Homo sapiens: one gene and its partner. The protein of the gene in region 1 interacts with the protein of each later gene in a pairwise test. Each region holds a gene or a part of one and is shown on either strand. Other genes may lie near its edges.

The links. The genes of interacting proteins can lie anywhere in the genome.
Region 2: the proteins of LPAR3 (region 1) and KCNC1 interact in binary tests that used the Homo sapiens proteins (3 or more experiments, as listed by UniProt).

What each region holds. Positions count from the first base shown.
Region 1 is NC_000001.11:84,882,669-84,887,911, forward strand, and holds part of LPAR3 (lysophosphatidic acid receptor 3), read right to left. Parts: intron 1-5,243. UniProt on the Homo sapiens protein: Receptor for lysophosphatidic acid (LPA), a mediator of diverse cellular activities. May play a role in the development of ovarian cancer. Seems to be coupled to the G(i)/G(o) and G(q) families of heteromeric G proteins.
Region 2 is NC_000011.10:17,740,306-17,745,548, forward strand, and holds part of KCNC1 (voltage-gated potassium channel KCNC1), read left to right. Parts: intron 1-5,243.

The DNA of each region.
Region 1 (5,243 bases):
ATAAACCCACACATACATAATCAACGGATCTTTGACAAGGGTGCCAAGAATTCACAATGGAGAAAAGATAGTCTCTTCAACAAATGGTGCTATACATATGTAACAAACCTGCACGTTGTGCACATGTACCCTAGAACTTAAAGTATAATAATAAAAAAAAATGGTGCTAGAAAAAAATAGATACTCACATGCAAAAGGGCATGGCCCTGGAGATAGCCAGACTGAGTTTAAAGCCTTGCTTACCAACAAGTTAGTTATCTTCTCTATCTTAATTTCCTCATCTACAAAACGGGGATAATAAAGGTAACTTCCTCCTAAGGCTGTTAGGAGATTTAAAGGTGCTTAGACTAGCCCCTAACAAACAGTTCTAATTTAATTATTGTTATTATCAGTGGGATCTGAGAAATGGAGCCTCGATTTCCTTTTTTGTAAAAGGGAGATAAGATCTAACTTGTCAGGTTAGTGGGACAAAGTGAATGACGTAGCAAATGTAAAGCCCCAGTCCACTTCAAGGTCTAGAGGAGTCAGAGAAAGTCCACTGAGCTCCACGGTGAGCTTGTTCCCAAAAGGCTGGGGAAAAGGGACCCCAACAGAGAATATTGGGAAGAGGAGACCAAAGGAAGAATCCTTTCCCTCACACTGGGTGGGTCACCACAATAACACCCTAAAGCCAAAGCCTTCTCTCTTCTACCAATCTAGTCAGAGAGTCACTAGCTGGTGTTTTTCATTACCTTTTAGTCCCAGAGTCCCAGATGAATGTGTACAATCAGGAAAGAGGGGTTTAGCCAGCTGGGTTGAAAACCTAATGTTTAACATTCTTACTATGTTACCATACTTCCTCTAAACCACTCCTTCAGGATCTTGGAGTAATCCACCAAAACACATTCACTGATATACTAGTGAACAAATTTCAAAGTTTACATCTCTTTCCCCATTTGATCCCACAGTGAGATGGGCAGTTCAGCATTCTCCATTTTACAGAGAAGAAATGTAGAAATTGGGGACTGATTCACCCTGACCAGCCCTCATCCTTCTGGCCCAGGGATTTTTTTGTTTTTTTTTTTTTTAAACAATACTGACCACTGGAGCCTCTTTTTGGAAGCAGTCTCTGCCACCTGACCCCCAGAGAAATGTAAGACGTAGATTTGTTCTCCATAATGACATTAATGCCTTTTGCAAACATTTACTGAATCTAGAAGAAATATAATTGCAGAAAGTAAAAAGTTTCCTCTTCAAAGTTTCCCTTCTTGTTAAATAATAAATCATAAATGTTAGAAATAATAGTTTCTTTTAAAATTTTTCTTCAAGCCTCCTTGCTTTGTGCTAATAACTCTTTGTTAAGCATGTAGCTGTTGGACATGCTCACAGGCATGTTCCAGCTCACAGCCTATGCCCCTTTCTTATTTGGAAATGTTATTACTTCTTTAAATTTTTCAAAAGCAACTTCCTCTTTTCCTTTGTTCTCCCTTGCCTTTACCTATCTAAAAAAGTTTTAGGCTCTTAGCAAATCGGGTATCAGTTTAGACTGTGAGGTTCGGCTCCAGCCAGTGGATGCAGGACACAGCAGTGAGGACAACCCAAATGTGTAAGGGATAAATATGTCTGCTTTTCCTTTGTTTGGTGTACTCTCGTGGCAAGACTGCTGGTGAGTATACCCTTTCCGCAGAAAGTAAAAATTGCCTTGCTGAGAGAATTAAATTTATGTTCAAGCGCTATTTCTTTGTGGCACCGGGGAACAAGCATTTTGCATTTCTAACATAATGATTGTGGTAAATGTCAATAAAAATCTTGAAGCACATCTCTCCTTAGAGTTTTTGGTAAGAGTTTATGGAGGAAAATCTATATAATCAAATGAAAATATCACAGTAAAACTCTAAATGCATCATAGAAATTAGCAACCATTAGTCAGTTTGCCTGTTTCAGAGAAAGCTCAGAAGAAACTCAGTTTACCTCTACAATGTTAAATGATGTTAACACCTTCTCCTAAAGCATTTTACTTTCCCCATCAACAAAACAGAGTATATCAGCTGAAATAGGCCACAGACCTCATTGTCTGTCTGTACGAAACTGGGGCAAAAATGAACTCAGAAAGACAAGTAATAACCTGGTAGCAATCCATGGAAAGTTAACCTTGCTGACATTCCTCTTCACTTCCCTCTGTTGGATGTTCCTGGAATTTGCATTTGTGGAAAGTTGCATACTTGCAGTGAACAAGTTCCACTGGTCCTGTTGTAGTGGATTCCACCTAACCTTTTATTCCTCTCATCCCTGTCCAGCTAACGTTCTCTCACTGTTCAGCATATGTACGTCAAAGACAGAAGTGCATGAAGACATGTGTAAAGATGCAAAATTCCCCCAGGAAACTCATTATCTAGAGCAGCCAGGGCCAATCCTCTCCTCCTCCCAGGGATTCCTAGCAATATCTGGAGACATCTGCATCAGTCATGACTTGGGGGAGGGGGGTACTATTGGCATCTACCGGGCAGAGGCCAGGAATGCTGCTGCACACGCTACAATGCACAGGCCAGCTCTCCACAACAGAGAAGTATCCGGTCCAAAATGTCAGTGGTGCTAAGGTTGAGAAATCCTGACCTAGAGGGTGAGATGAGACATATAATACAGGGTTAAGTGTGGCAGAGCTGTAATAGAGCTAAAACTGGAGTGCTATCAGATTGATAACATTTAAACAAGCGGCTATTACTTGCCAACAAGTGTTGGCAAGAATGTGGGGAAAATAGTACCCTCATAACATGTTGGTGAGAATGTAAACTGATAGAACTTTGGGGGAAGGCAATTTGGCAATATCTAATGAGACTTTAAAATATATACACTATTCCTCTTTGCTTTCCTTCCATTCCTATTTTCTTTCTTCCTTTCCCTTCTCTTTTCTTCCTTCCCCAGAACACAGCAATCAGCATGTAGCTGGGAATGCAACGTGAGGCTGGGGAGTTTGGGGAGGTACATAGAGACATGAGCTATGGCTGGGAAGAGCTGTGAGCTAGAGGGACTGGAGACTGATGATTAAGCTACATAGAGACACAGGCTAGCAGGCCTGGCAGCCGAGGACAAGAGGCAGTGGCAAAGGTGGTGGACACAGAGGAGGCAGGATGACCTTCACATTTGTAAGACTGGTTACTGTATGCAAATAAGCAAAAATATTGAAGATAATGAGAGTCAGGTTTTCTAACTGCCAGAGAAGATATGTACAAACATATAAAGGGGGAAGAACAGAAAGCTCTTTGGGTGTTAGATTGAAATTGTAGGTATAAGTATGAATCATGATTTTATAATACACAGCCTAATATAGAAAAATTTATAAATGTGTGTACACATATACACATATATTTCCTAGCTCTGTCCTCTGAGAGATCTAGAAGCAATAATACCCCAGTAACAATGGGCACATCAACCTCCTATGTATTGGTGTCTAAATACAATTCTCATATTGCATATTAGATCTCAAGACTTATTCATCCTACATAACTGCAACTTCGTACCTTTTAATCTACATCTTCTGTTTTTCCCTGTTTCCACTAATGTACAACACAAGGACTACAGTTACTAATACTGTATTGAGGCTGAGCATGGTAGCTCATACCTGTAATCCCAGCACCTGGGATGCCAAGGCAGGAGGATGATTCAAGGCTGGAGTTGGAGGCCAGCCTGGGCAACACAGCAAGACCCCTCCTCTAAAAAATATTTTTTAAATTAGCCGGGAATGGTGGTGAGCACCTGGAGTCCTAGCTACTTGGGAGGCTGAGATAGGAGGACTGCTCAAACCTAGGAGTTAGAGGCTGCAGTGAACTATGATCACGCCACTGCACTCCAGCCTGTAGTACAGAGCAAGACCCTGTCTCTAAAAAAATTAAAATTAATAAATATTGTATTCTGCTAATTTGCCAAGAGAGTAGATTTTAGGTACTCTTATCACAAACACAAGAAAGGTAACTATGATGGGCATGTCAATTTGCTTGACTGTAGTAATTACTTCATTACATCTATGTTTATCAAGATAAATACATGAAAATATCATGTTGTATGCCTTAAATATATAAAATATAAATAAGACAAAAGTACCATTCTCTACTAAAAGGGAGGCCTAACTAGGTCAAGGAAAGTAGAAGATGAGTCCAGATGATCTGGTGGAGCCAGAAAATAAAGAAATGCTCAATGAATAATAGGGATGTGTTAAAAGGACACAGGAGGCAGCTCCAAGGGGTCCCCATTGGCCAAATTGAGCACAATTTGAGCATTAAAATAAAAAACAATCGTGAGACTTCAACTTATTGAATACATAAGGAATCCATGAACAGTTCTTAGTAAAAACATAACAGAAAAATAAAGTTCTTCCTTATAGTAGTATGCCAACTAACAAATGTAGAAAGAGTGACGGTGATAAAGAATCATCACTTGAGGCTGGGTGCAGGGGCTCATGCCTGTAATCCCAGCACTTTGGGAGGCCAAGGCAGGTGGATCACTTGAGCTCAGGATTTCGAGACCAGCTTGGGCACCATGGTGAAACCAACTCCATCTCTACAAAAAATACAAAAAAAAAAAAATAAGCCAGGTGTGGTAGTGTGCACTTGTAGTTCCAGCAACTTGGGGGGCTGAGGCAGGAGGATCACTTGAGCCCAGGAGGTTGGGGCTGCAGTGAGCCAAGATCATGCCACTGCACTCCAGCATGGCAACAGAGTGAGACCTTGTCTTAAAAAAAAAAAAAAAGAATCACCATTTGGCAACATTCATAGAGGTGGCTGATTCAGGCAGACGTCATCAATAAATGGTAGTTTCTGTAGGTACAGGTTTAATGAGGAACAGGCTATTTGCATAACCCTAGAATAGTTCCCCACAAACACTAGTACAAAGGTGTTTTCAAACACCTTTGGGGAAACAAAGGGAAACGAAGGAAAAATGGCGAATTTAAGGTGAAGAAATCTGGCAAACACCAACATAACCAGGTGATTGAGGTCAATATCCCAGCAGTGGGATGGGTTGGCACCATGTGCCTTCTGTTGTAAGAAGCTAAGAAGAGCTGAGTTTCATTTCTGAAGGATTCCTGCCAAGAATGCATGACCTCAGTCAGGCTGTGAAGAAATACCCAATACAGCCAGGTTGGGAGTCATCCTACAGCATGTAGGACCTATACAACTGCAAACACTTTAGGAACAGGGAAAGTCTGAGGAACCGTTCCAGAAGAGACATGGTAACTAAATGTAACATGAATCCTAGATCAGACAGGTAGA
Region 2 (5,243 bases), on another chromosome or scaffold:
ACAATGATGATGGTGGTACTGTTTGGAGAGGCTATGAAGGGATTTCCTGGGGCCATGAGAATAAGAACTGCCCCAGAGGAGGTGATGCTGGGGCAACCTTTGAGGGGCAGGGAGGAGTTAACCAGGTGGAGAGGGCAGGGGGGTCATAGAGGTGTGAGAGCAGGCAGGGGAGTGTTGGGGCTGCCTGGCTTGAAACCTGCCCTCCTGTCTTCCTTGGGGGCCAGCTCAGGTCTGAGGCTCTTGGCTTTAGTCTCTGATTTGCATGTCATCATCAGGGACGTTGTTGCGTCCCATCAGGGCCAATGGTGGTCCTTGTGCTGCAGGCCAGAGTGTCCTGTGTGTGTGTGTTTGTGTGTGTGTGTTAACATCTGTTCCTGAGTCACTTGACCTTCCAAATGCCAAAGTAGTGCCAATGGCCCCCAAGCTGGGGAAGCCCCACCTCCATCCACCCAGCTGCCTGCCTCTCCTCTGACCCTTGTCCTGTGTCTGTCTCTCTGCCCTGTCACTGCCTCTTTGGAACTCGATAAAAACTGGCCTCCCCTCAGCTCCCAGGGAAGGAAATTTACCTGGTGGCGGGAAATAAAGCGCCCAGCCAGAGGCTTCTGTTCCTCCCTTGGGTCCCAGCCGACACAGGGCTCTTGGAGTCGTGGCTTGGCATGCGGAGGGCTGGGGGACAGAGCTATTATCAGGGGATTCTAGGCAGTGCACCCCCTTGCCTCGGAGCCCACTCCCCCAGGCCAGGGCCCCACTTGGAGTCATGGTACCATATGAAGGAGACCCATGAACAGTGGAGAAGGGGCTGGGTATGTTCACCTCCCAGCCACCCCAAGGGCCTTCCACCACAGTGTGCCCCCCTGCTTCCCATGATCCTTGTATGGGGTCCTCAGGTCTTTGAATGGTTCCTCCAGCTCCCCCCACCCCCCTCCCAGTAATGAAAATCATAAACCAAGCGCCTCCTGGTCAGAGCCCTGCAGCCCCTTCACCGCTAAATGGGAATAAAGTTAGAACCGTCCTCACGAGGTTGGTGTGAAGATAACTGAGGTAATGCTTGGACAGCCCCGAACCACAGGGCCTGGCATACAGTAAATGCTCAATAAATGTTGGCTACTATTATTACTACTGTTGGTTGTATTATCATTTCCCCTCCTGTAGACTCTCTCGTCTCCCTCCACCTCCATGTTCACCATCCTGGCTCAAGCCACCATGGTTCCCCTCAGGCTCACCTCCCCGGCAGCCCCCCAGCTGCTCTCCCACCTCCAGCCCCTGGCTGCTCCAGTTTATCCTCCACCTGGCAACCACAGAGGTCTTTTCAACTCACGGGCCTGTCAGATCGCCCGAGCCTGCTTAGAACCCTTCAGTGCTTCGCCAGCCCGTGGCCCATACTGTGGCCTCTCAGGCCCTGCCTGTCCCTCCAGTTTCCTCTGACCTGACTGTCTCCATCGCTTACCAAACCCCAACCACCCAGCCTCGTTTCAGCTTCTTGCACCTGCCAGGTTCCCCTGCCTCAGGGCCTTTGCACATACCCTGCCTTCTGGAGCGCTCTTTCCTCTGGCTCACCCCTCTTTATCCCCGACACCCCACCTCAAACAGCAGCTCCTCAGTGATGCCTTCCCGGGCCCCTAGGCTGGGTTGGAGTCAGAACCAGGGCCCTTCCTGGGAGAGAAGCTCTCTGATTTCTAATAAAATGTTCATTAGCAGCCTTGTTTGATTTGGGCTCATCTCTCCTCTAGACTGTAAGCCTCTGGCATGCTCTATAGAATAGGAGCTGTTATCATGACAGATGAGGAAGTTGAGGCCCAGAGAGGAGTGCTCTACCTGAGGCCCCTCGTGAGCGGGTTAGCTGAGGGCTGGCTGGGAAACTCGTATCTCCTGACTCCTGGCTCACAGGTGCTTTGTGTCACATCGCCTCAGAGCATTTGGAGTCTGTGCTCCTTGACTCTGAGCAGGAGGCCTGGCCTCTGCCAGAAGCTTTGGAGGGGATTGGCTGAAGTCTATCAAGGAGGGAGGTGGTGGTTGTCTCAGAGGTGGGGGAGGGGGTTCAGTGGGGGCTCATTCCAGGGTCCACTGCCTGGGCTGAGGATCTCAAGGCCTCCACGACAGCTGAATATAATGCCTCTGGCTATTCTGAGCGGTCTCATGACCAGGGGATTCACTCTAGACCAAAAGGTCAGGGCCTTGAGCCACTGCCTCCCATCAGCTCTGGGGCCAGCCTGGCTACCACCCCAGCGTGAGCTCCCCTCTGCTAGGTGCAAGGTTAGAGGAAAAGGAGGGCCTGACAGGCTGCAGGGGTGCTTTGCTCTTCAGTCCTTATTCAGGGGAACCATTTAGGTGGTAGGGACCACTTCACATATGCATGGGACTATTGCAGGGAATGGGTGCTCCCAGGCTACCTCTAGTCAATATTTTCATTCAGTGAAAATAAACAGGCTCAGAGAGGGAAAGACACTTGCTCAAGACAACACAGGGAATCAGTGAGACTCAAACTCACAGCCTAGGCCTCTGGTCCCAGGGCCTGACCATCTGAATTTCTTTTGGCTCTCAGTTTTACAAGAACACCAAACCCCACCTGGGCGTGCTGTTCTTCTCTTATCTACTCCCATTAATTTCCTTCCTGGGGGAAGTGGAATACACAGATACCTGCATTCCAAGGACACGGCACAGCTGATTGAGACCTTCTCACGTCAGCCAACCCAGACTTGACCCAAATCCTTAGGATTCCCCAAGCAGGATTTTCCAGAACCCCCTTCCTTTCTTGAATCACGCAGTGTCAGACACTGTCTTAAGGACTTGATTTATATATCCTCATTTATTAATAATTCTCACAAGGCTCTCAAGGCTGCACTATACTATCACGCCAATGACACAGACAAGGCTGCAGAGGCTCAATGAAGTTAAGTAACTTACCCAAGGTCACTTAGCTCATGCGCGGTGGAGCCAGCAGTCAGACCTCAGTCTGTCTGACGCTGGAGCTCTATCTGTAACTATTACACAGCACTGCCTCCTGTCCATGTTCCAGGGATGGTGAGGCCTGTGGCTTGCTGTGCCCCAGGTTTGAATTTCCGTCTGGGTCTCTCCCTCCCCACCATCCACTCTTTCCCAACAACCTGTCCAGAACCTGTCAGCAAGTTCTGGCCCCTGGGTAATGGCAGGTGAGGGCCCTGCCTGGCCAGGCCATGGGCTAAGAGGGCGCTCTGTCAGTCCCAAGGAAGGTTTTGTGACAGTGCCTCAATTGTCCCCCCACTCCCATCCATGCAGCCCCTGGGACTCCATATGGCCTAAAGTGAAATGCCAGGAGGATTGGGAGGATCAGAAGCTGCTTGTGCAGGGCGGCACATGGTGGGAACGCTGGCCGCCCCTCAGCTCGGCACTCCAAGGCCTTCTGCCCTGGAACCCAGCCACAGCTCCTGCGGCTCCCTTCCGCCAGCCTCCTCCCTGGTCCTCATTGGCAGCCCTTTAACCTCTGGGGTTTTGGTCATCTATTCCCCTCACTTCAGTGTCCTCCCTGCTTTTTGCTGAACGTGAAAATCCATCCCTTAAGGTTCCTCACACTTAGCCTGGCTGCTCCTGCCCTCGCTGACGTCATGTTTTTGGGAGTGAGGGGTATGCACTGGGCACTGAGTCATCCAGTTTGTGAGATGTGAGCTGGTGATGAGTAGGTCAGTTCTGGAGGCTGGGGGCTGGGGACAGGCGGGCCCTCAGGATTAGAGACCAGCCCCGGTGTGTGGAGAGATGAGGCCACAGGCAAGACCCAGGTTGTAGGCATCAGACACCTGGATTAGAGAGGAATCTAGCCAGGCTGTGAAACCAGCTGGGCTACCTTGAGCAAGTCCTGTGGCCCCTTCATCCTGCAGTTTTTCCACCTGTAAAATACAGAGGTCGTGCTAACTGACGGCTAAGGCTCTTCCCAACTCTGACATTCTGGGAGTCCAAGAATTCTAGGCTTCAGCTTCCCAGAGGAGCTGGGGAAACCAAGCCAGTCCTCCCCTATTTCTCCTTCTCTCTCCCAGCCCAGCTCCTCCCCAGGGCACGTGTGAGCAATCCTGGCAAAGGTCCTGGCCCAGAGCAGGCAGGAGCCCAGCAGGAAGGGGTCTAAAAAGCTTCCTCCTACATTCATTCAGCCTGCCTCATCCTGTCCTCACTCATTCATTCAAGGCATAGTGATCGCACCCCTGCCTGACGGGCTCCCCCAGCCCTCTGGCAGGCACAGACCTGGGGGGATCACCTCTTTTGGGGGTGCTTGCTCAGGCCTATGGACAGCACCCATTGCCCGCTTCTCCAGGCCCTTCTCTTCGCTTCCTGCCCTTAGGGAGCTGCAGAAAGGCCCACTTGGAGCTCCTGTGTGCCAGGCTGTGGGGTCTGGAGCAGGGGCAGTGGGGCCAACTTCTATGGTGTAGGGCTGCTGTGGGGAAGGGCGCAGGGGATGGGTGCTGTGCTGGAAGGGCCAGGGCTGGGTAGGGGTGTTTGCGATGGCTGCTATGGGGGATGGAGGGGTGGCTGCTGGAGGACTCCCACCCATGCCTGACCCTCAGAATTACCTGGGATGCTTAAAGTTCATACTCCTGGGAAACTCGATTCTTAGATCAGGGAGGGGGAGAATGTTCCCTTCACCCCTCAGCACAGCTGAGGCCACTGCTGAGTGAGGGTACATCGCTGCATTGGGGCCTGAGAGGTGTGGGCTCCTTCCATTCAAGGTGTGGCCCTCTGACCAACAGCAACACCATGAGGACATTTGTTAGACGTGAAGCCTTTCAGGCCTCACCCCAGCCCTGAAACCGATTCAGAATCTGCATTTTCACTCCCCAGATGATTCATGCACGGTGGAGTCTGAGAAGTGCTGATGCAGGCAGCGGCTCCAGTCGAGGGCCAGCCTCAGGACACAGAGGGCTGGATGGGCGTGTGTGGGTTGGCAGAGTGTCACAAGCAAGCCGCTCCTTCCTGAGGCTGAGGCTTCGATGGCAGGGGGACTGGGCCTGGGGTGAGGCCCCATCACAGCCATGGCAACCGCATCCATCTGGTGGCTCCCACTGGTAGACCTTGGGAGTCATCCTGGACTCCTCTCTCTCTCAGACATCAACCAACCCTGTTGTCTTCATGTTTCAAGTACACTCGGAATCTGAGTGCATCGCACCCCTCCACAGCTACCCCCCCGTGGAAGCCCCTGCCCTCTCTTGCCTGAGTTCTTCTCTCAGCCCCAGCTGCCCCGCCCTTCTCTCAGGGCAGCCAGGGCCGGCCTGGCAAAGTGC